2 linked regions of the Homo sapiens genome follow. The protein of the gene in region 1 interacts with the protein of each later gene in a biochemical or structural test. Each region holds a gene or a part of one and is shown on either strand. Other genes may lie near its edges.

What was found. Proteins that work in one complex are often made in the same cells at the same time.
Region 2: the proteins of TCEA1 (region 1) and CTR9 form a complex in vitro, tested with the Homo sapiens proteins (2 studies listed by BioGRID).

The regions. Positions count from the first base shown.
Region 1 is NC_000008.11:53,984,168-53,991,851, forward strand, and holds part of TCEA1 (transcription elongation factor A protein 1), read right to left. Parts: intron 4,093-7,684; coding exon 3,947-4,092; intron 2,859-3,946; coding exon 2,802-2,858; intron 351-2,801; coding exon 196-350; intron 1-195. Other genes in the region: LYPLA1-TCEA1 readthrough, read right to left, coding at 196-350, 2,802-2,858, 3,947-4,092.
Region 2 is NC_000011.10:10,760,984-10,768,667, reverse strand, and holds part of CTR9 (RNA polymerase-associated protein CTR9 homolog), read right to left. Parts: intron 6,722-7,684; coding exon 6,614-6,721; intron 5,238-6,613; coding exon 5,130-5,237; intron 5,026-5,129; coding exon 4,789-5,025; intron 4,557-4,788; coding exon 4,467-4,556; intron 4,361-4,466; coding exon 4,232-4,360; intron 4,121-4,231; coding exon 3,937-4,120; intron 2,267-3,936; coding exon 2,178-2,266; intron 863-2,177; coding exon 677-862; intron 595-676; coding exon 507-594; intron 326-506; coding exon 177-325; intron 1-176. UniProt on the Homo sapiens protein: Component of the PAF1 complex (PAF1C) which has multiple functions during transcription by RNA polymerase II and is implicated in regulation of development and maintenance of embryonic stem cell pluripotency.

The DNA.
Region 1 (7,684 bases):
GAAACAGTTGGAGGGGGAGCAAAGTACTGACAAAAGACACAATCACCTTAAGTATTTGTCTAGTATATAAATATATCAGAATAACGGAAATTTATTACATATGCAATATTTATATAGTAGTCTATGATGATAATAGGCTTTACACTTCACAACACAGAATCACATTATAGAAACCTCAGATTCACACATACTCACCTCTGCTGTCATTCTAGCAAATAAGTCAGGAGGAATATTCCCACAGAGGACATTTTTCCTTAAATTTGGATTTTTTGCATCTTTAAGATTTGATATCCTACTTCGTACTCTATTTTTGTATTTCATGTCTGTATTCCTTATTTCTTGATATATAGGTACCAGGCCGTTAAGGAAAAAAGGCAAAATTACAAAAGTAAGATCACTTTTTTTTCCTGTTCTGCCAAAATAAGAATTCCTGAGGCCAGGCACGGTGGCTCATGCCTGTAATCCCAGCACTTTGGGAGGCTGAGGCTGGTGGATCACGAGGTCAGGAGATCGAGACCATCCCGGCTAACATGATGAAACCCCGTCTCTATTAAAAACACAAAAAATTAACCAGGCATGGTGGCAGGTGCCTGCAGTCCCAGCTACTCGGGAGGCTGAGGCAGGACAACCACTTGACCTGGGAGGCAGAGGTTGCAGCGAGCTGAGATCAGGTCACTACACTCCAGCCTGGGCGACAGAGGGACACTCCATCTTAAAAAAAAAAACAAACCTGAAATTTCTAAGCAATTCACGACAACTGTTTCCAATTTAGAGTATGTTAAAAACAAGGTACTATATCTAATTCCTTGAGCTGTAATTGGCGAATAATAGTGATATTACTTTTACACTGTAAAGTAGTTGTTTGTTTTGAAGGTGGGTAGAAGGAGTCTCACTCTGTCACCCAGGCTGGACCTCAGCTCACTGCAACCTCCACCTCCCGGGTTCAAGCAGTTCTCCTACCTCAGCCTCCCGAGTAGCTGCTGCGATTATAAGCGCCTGCCACCATGCCCGGCTAATTTTTGTATTTTTAGTAGAGACGGGGTTTCACCATGTTGGCCAGGCTGGTCTCAAACTCCTGACCTCAGGTGATCCACCCGTCTCGGCCTCTCAAAGTGCTGGGATTATAGGCGTGAGCCACCGCGCCCGGCCTAGTCATGTTTTATTTCCTAAATGTTTAGTGCCAGCAGTATGCAAGTCAACAGGGTTTCAAAAAGTAACTCAAGTACTCAACATGAGAAAGCACATGTTTGAAAAGGAGCTTGAACTTATTCAAGCTTTACTTGCCCAAATCCGAATTCTACTAAGGATCCTAAAGTCTCTCTGGTCACACAGTTCCCACAGGGTCTCTGAGAAGAGACCATTCAGCATGGCCGTGAGGGTTCCTCTCCTCCCCCAGCTCAGCAGGAGCTACCTCAGCAGGCTCTTCTTCTCTGCAGAAGAGGCCACTGCCAAAGCTGAACCCTGGAACAGCTCCCTTCCTAATAAGGCCATTTCCTCAACCAGGACAATCTCATGTTACACAGCCACCTAGATGCTCCCTGCCCCTACTCACACACAGTACCCCTCTCCTGGAGCCCTTTCCCGGTGCTTAGCAAGAACACGCTTCCTCTGGGATAATGAGCTCAGGTGACTGTGTGTGCTCTGAGGTCCCCCTAACTGAGAAGTCTTCACATTTATATGTGTGTGCTTTCCATGCCCTTTTGCACAACTTAAATTCAGACACTACAGTCTCAATCTACAAGGCAGAAAAATTTAAATGTCATAAATGCCATCAATACTGTACTTTCCTTTTCAATAACAGGAAAAACAAGACAAATAAAATGACATAGATGTCCCTCTCCTTTCCAAGAAAACAATACAATCAAGATAAAAAGTGAAGAATAAGACTTTGAATTCTATACCAACAGGAAAAATTAAGCTAGCAGATTACTTAAAACAATTATGACCACTTGAAGTTGTGTGACACCAAGAGACCTTTCTGGCTGGTAGCAGAAGTAATAGATGTCACTCCTCAGCAGTAGTTTTGAAAGCCAGTATGCAATTTATCCATTTTACCTTCTGCCACATCACCACTCACAATGGCCAATCCACCTGCCTGGTCCTAGAGGACAATGACCCAAAGCCCAGAGTCCTCAGCTAGCCTGTGATGAACATATAGGACAAATACATTCCTGTTTGTCCAGTTTAATCTGTGAAAGAAACCTCTGTGGTGTTAAGCCACTGAAATTTCAAGGTTGTCACCATAATATAACACAGCCTGTCCTGCCAAGTACATAAAGTCAATCTTGGACACTCATGTTTTGCTAGGAAAGCGAAATTCTTTAGGTTTTCAAATTGCCAACGAGATACACCCAATGTTCTCATGTATTTTGTAATCTCTTCTAATTATGTTATCGGTTTGCCTTTCTTGTTCTCAATCATATTTTCACTCTCCTGCTATCTGAAGCAATTTTACTAGGGATTTATATGTTTCAGTTTCCAAAGAGCCAGGTCCTTTTAAACTTCGCTGTTTCTAGTTCATTCAGCTTCAACATGAAGGAAAAAGTCTAGCGTGGTGGTCAAGGTCATGGGCTTGGAGCCAAATTCCCTACAATGGAATCCCAGCCCTGTCAGTGTCAGGCTGTGTGATCTAGAACAATGACCAATCCTCTTCTGCTTCTGTTTTCTCTCTGTAAAATGGGATGAGAGCACCTAATTCATTGGAAGGACTACTGCATGTAAAACCGTGCCTGGCATTTGCATATGTTCAATAAATATTACTTATTAAAAAAAACAATTATGAATATACACACAAAGGATATCTTCTTCAATTTGAGATCCTAATTCTTCCTCATCAGCTCCAATTGCAATGTAGTCATCTAAAAATAGGCATAAAGAATTGTCAAATTATTGTAACAGATTAAAAGAAAATTCTAATACCAGGTAATTAAACTGCATTCCTATTTCTTAAACCCCATTTGCCTGACATAAAGAAACCGTTCAGTTTAGTTCGTTAGAATCTGATCACTTCACTGCCCGCTAGACTTCTTTTCTGGGCTTCACCTGATACCCACAGTGCTCCTGCACTGATGATTCCTGATCCCTCAGGCACAGGAAGTAACTGATCTAGCAGGCAATTCATTTTTCGTAACTCCATAAATTCTGGCTGCTCCAGCAGAGTAGAGAAAGTTACAGAAAGAACTGTCTAGTCTCCTGTGACTCAGGCTTCAATGCAAAGAAATCATTTAGTTAATCTGCCAATCACATATACAGACACACTCAGAAGACTGCTATACAAATATGCAAGAGGATAGAAGGAAATAAACTAGGCAGAAAAAATAAAAGAGACAGTCAGGAAATCAAAGTAGAAAGGGCAGAGTAAGGAGAAAATCAGGTCAAACTAGCCATGGTGCAGAATGAGAGAAAAGAAAAAGGATGAATTCGTATAAAATAACAAATATTCCTGTATATAAAACTTTAAATCCAAATGTTACATGTTAAGACTGGATACTTTCAAATTAAATTAAGCTCCCATATATAAATCAAGACTCACCCTCCCTTTTTCTAACTAGAAAATGGAAAACATTCATACTATATGTCATACTATTCAACAATTCAGTATTGTTAACTCTCAATATAAGATCAGGGTATGTAGTTTGCAGATTAAATTGTGGGGAAACAAAAGATTTGTGAGAAAAAAGTGTACATTACTATGAAATCAGGGAAAACATCCATGTATTAGAGGGAATCTATTTCTTACAATTACATAGTAATAAGCAAATGCCCCAGTATTCCTCCTCCTCTCCCCCTTAACAGACCCGTATCAGCAACAACTTCTCCCCAAGCTAAGCAGCAGTGGGTGGGCTATCCACAGGGTAACACTCATCAAACAGCAATATGGAGTTGGAGATGGCAGTGGTTGTGGGTGGTGACCAAAGGACTGAGAAATAACATGCACTGGACTTACCCCCTGTTCGAAGAGCTGCAGCAAGCATCTCCCTACACTTCAACCGCACAGAATCAGAAGTGCTTGGTGCCCGAGGAAAGGATGAAACATAAGTATCTCGAGCATTTGTCTCATCCTTTCTGTTGCTTACATTGCCGCTGGAAGTACTGAAATACGCACAAACACCCCAAAAAGAAATCAAGAACAATCCTTTCAAAGTAACAATACTACTATCATGCTGTAAAAACAAAATTTGGGGTCTAAATAAATGACACAGTATCTCAGTGACCTTTATGTGATGGAAAAAAAATTGCCTGCATACAGATTAAAAAGAAGTTAAAAATTTTACAATTTAGTAAAGTGACAAGTATGCCTTTTTTTTGAACTAAACATTTTATCTTTGATTCTCATTTTAAATATTAAGCAATATTTTTAATAGAGAAAATACCCATTATAGCTCAGTACAATAAATGAAAAGCAATGATCTTGGTATAAGGAGAGGGATGAAGGGATGGGACCAGAGAATGACAGCTTTCTTTTTTGAGACGGAGTCTTGCTCTGTCACCCAGGCTGGAGGGCAATGGTGCAATCTCGGCTCACTGCAAGCTCCACCTCCCAGGTTCACACCAGAGAATGACAGCTTTCAACCAAAACTAGAGATAGAGAGAGAGAATGCTTGAAAAACTCTGTTTCACTGGGCATGGTGGCTCACAGCTGTAATCCCAGCACTTTGGGAGGCCAAGAGAGGCAGATCACTTGAGGCCAGTAGAGTTCAAATCCAGCCTGGGCAAAATGGTGAAACCCCGTCTCTATTAAAAATACAAAAATTAGCTGGGCGTGGTGGCACACGCCTGTAATCCCAGCTACTTGGGAGGCTGAGGCAGGAAAATCGCTTGAACCCAGAGGCAGAGGTTTCAGTGAGCCAAGACTGCACCACTGCACTCCAGCCTGGGTGACACAGCGAGACTCCACCTCAAAAAAAAAAAAGAACAAAAAGAAAAAGGAAAACCTTGTTCCACTTAGACAGTGAGTTCCCCAGTGAGACAAATACCATGTGTACTGATGAGTCATGAGGCTACAAAATGGTGTGTTTCTCCCCAGAAACATCACCTCGATATGAACATTTAGGCAGTTTTATAATTTTCCAGTCAACCTAATCCTTTCAATTGCTTCTGAGTAGCTTCTTACGTTGGATTATCACTAAAATGGGTTCTTTCCAAAATAATCTTCATGATTACAATTAAGCTTTATCACATTGAAAACAGCTGCCATAACCCTTTTCAAAGACTGATTAAATCATCCACCATCCATAGATGTGGTTTGCTGCAATGCTACAAGAACATACTCCCTTGCCTTCTCTCCAAAACATAACCACTGTTAAACTTCACAAACAGGTGCCTGTGGGTCAGACGGACATTAGTACCTTTTAAATTTAGTCAGTTCCTTTTTGAAGCCTTCACTGATTTCCCCCTGTATTCCCAAAATATTGATTCACACAGGTTTGTATATGATAACTTTTCATACATTTTCTTCTCTATCAGACTGAGTTTCTCAAGAGCAAAAACTAGGATTTACTTTTCTTTGTATTTTCATTATGTAGCATAATGCCTCTCAGTGATAAATGAATGAGCAAACTAATGCTTAAAAACCCATTTATTATTTTTTTTTTTAAGACTCCAGCCTGAGCAACTGAGCAAGACTTTTCACAGTGGTGAAGAGAGCAAGAGTTGTGCAGTGGTGCCATCACAGCTCATGCAGCTTTGAACTCCTGGGCTCAAGCAATCCTCCTGCCTCAGCCTCCTGAGTAACTAGGACTACAGGTGCATGCCACCATGCCCAGTTAATTTTAAAAATATTTTTTGGCCGGGCAAGCTGGCTCATGCCTGTAATCCCAGGAGTTCAAGAACAGCCCGGACAAAATAGTGAGACCCAGGGTCTACAAAAAGAGTTTTAAAAATTTGCCAAACATGGTGGTATGCACCTGTGGTCCTAGCTACTTGGGGGCTGAAGTAGGGGGCTCGCTTGAGACTGAAAGGTTGAGGCTGCAGAAAGCCTTGACTACGCCACTGCACTCCATCCTGGGTAAAAGAGCAAGACTCTGTCTCCAAAAAAAAAAAATAATCCAACAAACAAACCTTTTTTTTTTGGTAGAGAAAGGGTCTATGTTGTCCAGGCTGGTCTCAAACTCCTGACCTCAAGTGATAATTCCGCCTCGGCGTCCTAAAGTGCTTGAGCCACCGTGCCAGGCCCCAAAACTCATTTCTTTTCTTTTTTTTTTTTTTTTTCTTTTGAGACAGTCTTACGCTGTCACCCAGACTGGAGTGCAGTGAAACAACCATGGCTTACTGCAGCCATGACCCCCAAACTCAGACGGTTCTCCTGCCTCAGCCTCCCAAGTAGCTGGGACCACAGGCATGTGCCATCACACCTGTCTAATGCTTTTTATTACTTGTAGAGACAGGGCCTCCCTATGTTGCTCAGGCTAGTCTCAAACTCCTGGGCTCAAGTGATCCCCCTACCTTGACCTCCCAAAAGTGCTGACATTACAGGTGTGAGCCACCACACCCAGCCAAAAACCCAGTTCTTAAACACTTTGATTAAATGCTTTTGCTTCTGTGTCTGTAGCCAAATGCTCCACAGGAACCAAGGGAAATTGCCCATATGGGCTGAGGGAAACTTTTCCTCACTAGTTTCACTACTGCTGGTCCCACTTCCTACATTCTGATCCTTCCTTTCTAAGCATTTAAACACATTACTTTCTTCTTAAATTCTTGCACCCAAAATATAAAATCCTGCTTAGCTACAAGCAACTTAGATTTAACCTTCTATCTTTCTTTACATGACTCCTCAAAATTCATTTCTCAATCCTCCTGTATTTCTGTGTGTGTTGGGGCGGGGATGGGGTGTAGATAGATACCAATCAGTTACTTTATCAGACTTCACATACAGTAATTTTCTTTTGCAGACAGGCTCTATACCTACACGTCAAGCACGTAAAACTGATAAAAGACAACGAGAGGCCAGGCGCAGTGGCTCACGACAGTAATCCCAGTACTTTGAGAGGCCAAGGTGGGTGGATCACTTGAGGTCAGGAGTTCGAGACCAGCCTGGTCAACATGATGAAACCCCATCTTTACTAAAAGTACAAAAATTAGCTGGGTGTGTTGACGTGCACCTCTAATCCCAGCTACTCGGGAGGCTGAGACAGGAGAATCGCTTGAACCTGGGGGACAGAGGTTGCAGTGAGGCAAGATTGTGCCACTGCATTCCAGCCTGGGCAACAGAGCAAGACTCCGTCTCAAAAAAAAAAATAAAAACAAGGCTGGGCGCGGTGGCTCAGGCCTGTAATCCTAGCACTTTGGGAGGCCAAGGCGGGCGGATCACCTGAGGTCAGGAGTTCAAGACCAGCCTGATCAAAATGGAGAAACCCCGTCTCCACTAAAAATACAAAATTAGCCAGGCATGGTGGCACATGCCTGTAATCCCAGCTACTTGGGAGGCTGAGGCAGGAGAATCCCTTGAATCCAGGAGGCAGAGGTTGCGGTGAGCTGAGATTGTGCCATTGGACTCCAGCCTGGGCAACAAGAGTGAAACTCTGTCTCAAAAAATAATAATAATAATAATAAAATAATAAAAACAAAGACAATGAGAGACTGAGGAACTATTCCAGATTTAAGAAAACTAAACGGATATAACGTTAGAAAAAATTACATAAACTTTATTAACAACTGCTGTTTAAGCCTACCTTTGACTTACCTC
Region 2 (7,684 bases), on another chromosome or scaffold:
CACATCTCTGTCTGGATACCAAAGCCTGGCCTTAGCATTATATAATTATAAATCTCTAAATAGACACAGTATCACAAGAGATAGCATGCAGCTCCATGACAGGGCCAGAATGGCTAAGAAAACATCTGCTTAACAATGAACAAGATATAAAAATATCTTGAAAGAGAAGCTATTACCATCTGAACGGCGCTGATGTACTGCTTTTGCTCCACATAGATGTGTGCTAAGTTCAGCCACACATCACTAATATCTGCTGTTGCTTCTCTTACTTGGGCAAATACATCACGAGCTTCACGAAAATATCCTTTGTGGGCCAAAACAGCTCCTAAAGATATAAAAAGGTTCACACTTAACAATTTTCTAATTGGAGTCAGAAAAACAACTAAAAATTCTATTTTAAAACAACTACATTGATCACATTTTAAGAAAAATTCTGATTTACAAACATTCCTCTGAAAGTATTCATTTGAAACAAATTGTTATGGGTACTCAAGTCTTATAATCACCTATGCCATTGGCAGCATACAGATTCTTTGCATCATTTCTGAGTACTTGTTTGTAGATGGCCAGAGCACGATCTTGATGACGCTTTTCCTATAGAAACAAGTGCTCTTAAAAAAGATTCAAACGAGAATGTAGAGTATCAGTTTTGTTTAAAAGGACAAAAAGAGATTACCTTTTCTCGATCTCGGGTGGGCTGATGTAAAGTTTGGAGCCACACGTTGCCAAGGGCTAGCATAGAATAGGTATCACTCTGTGTGGATGGCTGTTTTAATATCCTCTCAAACTTCTTCTGCCCAGGACCCCATTCTTGTTTTGCCAAATGAAGATTGCCAATCAAAGACCAAGCATCTGGATGATCCTGAAACATACATACATGAAGAAGGAAAATCTGCAGTTTAGTTTGACAGAGATCAATCATCTTCCCACAATAGCTGATTACTGAAGAGGTTTACAAACTATATTACAACAGTGGTTTTCTTTCTTTTCTTTCTTTCTTTTTTTTTTTGCATGGCAATCCAAATTTATCGAACTACTAATGCTAAAGCTAAGTTATACAAAATTGCACCACTTTAATTAATGCTTTCAGTTTACATTTGGCCACCTCAAAGTAGTTGTAACATTAGGTTGGTCAATTTAAATACTGTGGCTCCCTGTTGGATAGACACACAATCTTTACATCCAGACATAAATGCATACAAAGCAACAAGGCACTGTTAAATAAAACAGCAATAGTTACTGCAAATTAGGCCTTGTGACCAATTACATATGATTAAAATTAGTTCCCCACATTCACATCCACAGTACTTGTCCACCATTTAAAATCTCAACCAAAACGTTACAAACGTGGAACCATCACTAACAGGCAAAAATACTAAACTATATTTGGTATTGCAAATACCCTTAGGCATGAGCAAGCATGGGATTCACAGTGAGAATCTACAGCTGCAGAAGCCTGAAAATGATTTACAAAAATTGTTAAATCATTAAAAAATTGTTTGAAAATATACACTTCTTGTTGTAGACCCCCACATGAGTGGTTTTCAAACTGAGTTGATACCCATTAGTAAGTTGTAAAATCCATTTAGTTAGTCTTTAGTTATCTGCATAGTAAATGCAACAGAATGGAATAAAGTAAAAATATCAGTGTATCGCCCATTGGCAAAAGCAAATAATGATTTGTGAAACTTTCATTTCAGTTGTTTGTCTATATATACATTTGTGTGTACTAGGCTATGATGTGAAATCTATTTCTTTTTGTGGGCCCTCAAAACGTTTAGATGACCATAGCTATGGTTCCATACAAAATCCTAAGATACTATGCTATAAAGTTCTCTCATATGGTACTAACTAAACTGAAAGTGAAGTAAACTAGTGAGAGTAAAAAACACAGGAGTCAGGTCACATTTGTTGAAGTGGAGTGAAAGGATGGGATGGGGGAAGGGAAGAAGGAAAAAGGAAGACAATAGGAAAGATTTACATAAAAAAACATGGTCCCTATTTATAACATGATTAATAATGCAACCTAGTACATTTTTAGTATCTAACAAGTAAATGAAAACAAAACAAAAAATGACAAAACCAGGAAGATGTAGCCATTAAAAGGAAAAACTGATTTATGGGGAAGGAAAAGTGAAAATAATTATTTCTCAAACCTAAGAGTTAATATTACCAACCTGATTAATCTGAAGAGCTTCCTTAAACCAATCTGAAGCCTCATAAAAGTTTCCCTTATCTCTAGCCATGGCTCCTAGGCGCAAATAGCCTGAAAACATATTTAAAAGTTTTTATATCCCAAATATTAGCTATAAAGGATCATAATTTTAAAGTCATACTTTTGAAACAATTTTTTTTCATTAATACCGCCATAAAAGGAACAGAAAAGTCCCAAAGGTGAAAAAATATCAATCATCCATCCAACAAGTTAAAGAATAATTTTGTCACCATCTAGACTTACTGTTTGAAATCTAAGACTTACCTCTGCCACTCCACTCCCAATGCTAGTTCCCTGGTCCAAGTCCTTATCTCAAGCTAAGTTATTTTAAAAGCTTGGAACCGGCCTGTTTCTAATTTCTCTCCAATGCACACCATTGTCAGTTACCTTTTTTTAAAAAAAGCTGCTTGTAATACGGCAAAACAGTGAAAGTCTGATGAATAGGTATTACTACTTAGAAGATCTGGGCTCTAACTGGGGTTCTTCCATTAATTAATAGTGAAGTGCTACACAAATGTAAGTTGTTGTTTTCTCTAGGAAATGTCACTTCTCTCAGGAAACCAATAATGGTTCACTACTGCCTATCAAATCAATTCAAATTCAGTCTGGCATTCAACTGAAATCTTGCTTATTTTAAATCACTTTTGCATCCATAACAGCATGATAGGCACCAAGTTAATAGCTCCTGATATGCCGGGCACGGTGGCTCACGCCTATAATCCCAGCACTTTGGGAGGCCATGGTGGATGGATCACCTGAAGTCAGGAGTTCTAGACCAGTCTGACCAACGTAGCAAAACCCCACCTCTACTAAAAACACAAAAATTAGTCGGACGTAGTCGTGGGCCCCTGTAATCCCAATTACTCGGGAGGCTGAGGCAGGAGAATCACTCCAACCCGGGAGGCAGAGGTTGCAGTGAGCCGAGATTGTGCCACTGCACTCCAGCCTGGGTGACAGAGCAAGACTCCATCTTAAAAACAAAACAAAACAAAAAAACAAAAAACCTCCTGATTTACTAGAGTCAAAACATCATGCTTTAGGTTCTTTTTAAAGAAAGTACAAAAACAAACAAAAAAACCCTCATACACACAAATAAAATTAAGTACACTATGTATATTATTATTATTTAAAATATAAAGATGGGGTCTTGCTACTGGGGTTGTTTAGGTTGGTCTTGAACTCCTGGACTCAAGCGATCCCGCTGCAGTGGCCTCCCAAAGTACTGGGATTCCAGGCATGAGCCACCATGCCAGGCCTAAATTATTTTTTAATTAAAAACTTTCCTTATTTTATAACGTATAGGTTGCGAAACTCAAATTAGGACATTTTAGCAATAATTGTTTAAAGGAAAAGCACTTTTCTTCCTCACTATTATAAACATTGTAAGAATGTTCATATGAAATCAAAGAAGGATGTTTCAAAGGTAAATGCATTATCAGATATGCCAAGGAGTTGTTAAAAGCCTAACAAAGGTAGCTGACCCACTGAAGATAACCTAGTCATTGAAATACGGTCCAATTGGTTTTAGTTGCTTATTTCTAGCACAAATGTAAGTAAAGCTGCACCTTTGTTTTAAGGCCACAAATTTGCCCTGGAGAAATGGGGACATTAGAACCTTAAACAATTTTTACTATCAATTCTAAATTTTTTTCAGGCTAAATTTTTGCTGCTCTTGTGGGAATGAACGGATTTCATTACATAAAGAAGTTTAAAATCCTTACAGTCAACATAATTAGGATGTTCGCGTAAGATGTTTTTATACAGTTTTTCTGCTTCATGGAATTCACACATCGCCTCATATAGCCTGGCGAGATTATATGACGTGGTAACGGAAATGGCGTTATAGTAATGCTCATCGTGTTCCGCTTCTGCTTTTGCACGGTCCAATGACGCCAAAAAATATTTCTATGAGAAAGAAAAATCACACTGTTAAAAGATTTAGTTTATACACTTTTTAAAAAGGTGTGCATGCAACTTGATTCAGTATAAAAGAAGGAAATATTTCTATTTTCCTACCTTAGCCTCCCCTAGGTTTCCAAGTCTAAAATGGAGGGCACCCACATTATTGAGAATCTCTGGAGGAACATCGGCCTGCACTTTCTCCTGAAGGATTCGTGTTGCTGTTCCATAGGCTGAAAGGGCACCCTGTATTTTCATGATTGACAGAAAAAGGTGTAAGTGGAAGAGAGACACTACACCAGGCTTACAAAAAACACATCATATGAGAGATTAAAAAACATTACTAAAATACCTGTATATCAGTCTGTTCTAAGATTTGTGCCAATTCAATCCAAGCTTCAACATCATCGGGATACTGTTCTGTGACCTTCTTCAAATGGCCCTGGGATAAAAGAGATTGTTAAGCTGAAGTATTCCATCTATAGGTTGTCAAAATAAAAAGTGGGGGCTATGTAAGTCTGTTTAATAAATCCATTGTTTGTTATCTAAACTGGAACAAGCTCAGCTAACAAAACTGTTTCTATCATATTTCTACTAGCAATAACAGGAAATGAGAAATGGGAGTTTTGGGACAGCTAACAGAAAACAGCTAAGACTTTAAAAAAAAGATGTACCTTGGCAATATCTCGTTTTTCTTGATCTTCTGAGGCAGCATAGAGAGAGCCGAGAATTTTCATAGTTTCGTAATTATTAGGATAAGCTTTCAAAACCTTCTCAAAGCACTGAGATGCATTTTCTTTGTCACCTCGATAAATATACATTTGTCCCAAACCAAAAAATGGGAGCACAAAAGAGGATGAGGCAAACTGTGTGGCTTGATAATAGTACTGAAAAGCTTGGTCATAATCTTCCTAAAGAATGAAAATTAAAAAAGACCAATATGTACAAAAGTATTGGAAAGACTTAAAACACTATAAGTAAAAAGATTAGACATTTAGAGAAGTTATAAAATTACCTGAACATGGAATGATCTAGCTAGCTGATAGCAGCTCTCTGCTTGCATAGCTTCCACTTCTGTATTATGGAATGCATGGAGGGCCAGATGCTGGACTTTACTATAATCCTGAACAAAGATCAGAAAGTCAACTGAGTGAATTCATAAGACTAGCTTGCATAGCTGTTTTATCTTAGACTAACACTTCGTTTACCTGTAAGATACATTTCCATCTTCTTCATAAATAGTTGCCTTTCAGTGCTATAACAGTTATAACCTAATCAATAATTCACTATGAAAGGGGAGTATGTTTCTACAGCCAGAAAGAGTAAAGCACTGTGGTTAGTCTAAGGTCACATAACTATTAACCACAGTGCTTTACTCTCTCTGGCTGTAGAAACATACTCCCCTTTCATAGTGAATTACTGACTTTAGACTATTAACTCTTCCTCAACTTATCCACCCACAAAATGGGAATAAGATTACCTACATCATAGAATTATTGTGAAGATTACATAAGTAAATACATAAAGCGCACTTTTTTTTTTTTTTGAGACAGGGTCTCACTCTGTTGCATGGGCTGGAGTGCAGTGGCGCCATCATGGCTCACCACTGCAGCCTCGACCTCCCAGGCTCAAGTGATCCTCCCACCTCAGCCTTCTGAGTAACTGAGACTACAGGTATGTGCCACCATGTCCAGCTAATTTTTAAAAATTTCTGTAGAGATGAGGTCTCACTATGTTGCCAGTGTTGGTCCTGAACTCCTGGGCTCAAGCAATCCTCCCACCTAGGCCCCTCAAAATGCTGGGATTACAGGCATGAGCCACTACTCCCAGTAGATTTAGTATTTTAAGAAACCTAAAATACCACTGCTTCTACAGAATTAGTGGCAACTTAAAAAATACAACATGATTAACATGCAAAATAAAAATGTCAGTGACTCCTTGTTCCCTACATAGCATGTCCAAATTCTGGTATTACAAAAATGCTCCACTATCTGAATCCAAAGCATTGCCTACCATAAGTATATTATACACTATTTCATAGATTTGTGTGTCTTTCCCTTTTCAACTCTCTAGTGACCTCTTCCTAAAAACCTAGTTCAAAAGCTCTGCAGCCTTGGTGAAAATTCACCTAAGCCATCTGACCACTTCCTCATTTCTCTACCATAAATGAGTAGATACCTTTATTTTTACACTTACATTTGTTTACATGGCTGCTCTTTCTATGAAATTGAACTCCTTGAGTACAGACACCATGTTTTACTAATCTTCACATCACTACCACAGTGTTGGGTACAGTATATAGGGGTCAATAAATATTAAGCAAATAAATGAATAAACAAATGTAGGTACCCCCAGGTAACTAATACAACAAACTCTATAATTTGGAGGGGGGAAAAAATCTGACATTTTCAAATTTCTTTCCAAGTTTAAAAAAGAAATAAAATATCAATTGCAGTACAGAAAAACAAAAATCAGAATTTAAAAATAAATGACTTCTACCTTTTTGAAGAAAAAGTGATTTGCCAAATGGTTCAATACCATAGGGTTGCTAGGATCAATAGTATAGGCTCTGGAAAGAAGCTGGACACCATTTTTAATGGAATCAGCCTAAAAGAAAACATTGCAACAAGGTGGAGTGAAAACAATACTAAATTAGCACTTTTCAAGAAGTTTTCTTTAGTCACAAGAAATAAGTTATAAATCCTAAGATCAGACACTAAAACGGATTAGAAGCTTCTTATGATTTTAAATATCTATATTGCATTTGTAATTAAATCTCTCTTTTAATCCTTAATTTTTTTGTGTGTCACTTTTTTCCCCTTTTTATTTTCTTGTTCAGTTCTTGCTTGAGACTTATCTCATCTACTTTATTAGTCCCTGCCCCTACTTCTCCCACAAAGAGCCACCTTTGTTTTTATTTATTTATATTAATTTTTATTTTTTTCAGACAGGATCTCACTGTGTTGCCCAGGATGGAGTACACTGGCATGAACACAGCTCACTGCAGCCTTGACCTCCTGGGCTCAAACAATCCTCCCACTTTGATCTCCCAAAGTGTTGGGATTATAGGTGAGAGCCACCATGCCTGGCCTCTACCACCTTTGGTTTTATTGATCCGAGCTGTTTTCTTCGTGTGACTGATACTGGTGGATTACCCAACAGCCATTTGGGTTGGTAACATCCTGCTAACAGAATCCAGATTTTGTAGCCTGTGAAAATCTTTTGAGTTTAGGAAGGAAAGTTCCCTTCCCCCCTTCCCCAGGCCCGGGGGATGAATCATGATTGATCTACACCAGTCCAGATAATCTTTTCCTCTGGCCTAAGGTAGTGGTTCTCAACTGGGGATGAAGTCATGTTTGGTTATCACAATTGGAGGAACGCTATCGGCATTTAGTGGGTAGAGGCCCGGGATGCTGTTAAAACATTCTATAATGGAAGGGACAGTTCCCCACAACAAAGAATTATCCAGCCCAAAACATCAATAGTACTGAGGCTGAGAAACCCAGGTATCCCTGTTTTGGACAATTATACATAAGGGGAAGCATGATGGAGAGCTTCCTTCTCAATATA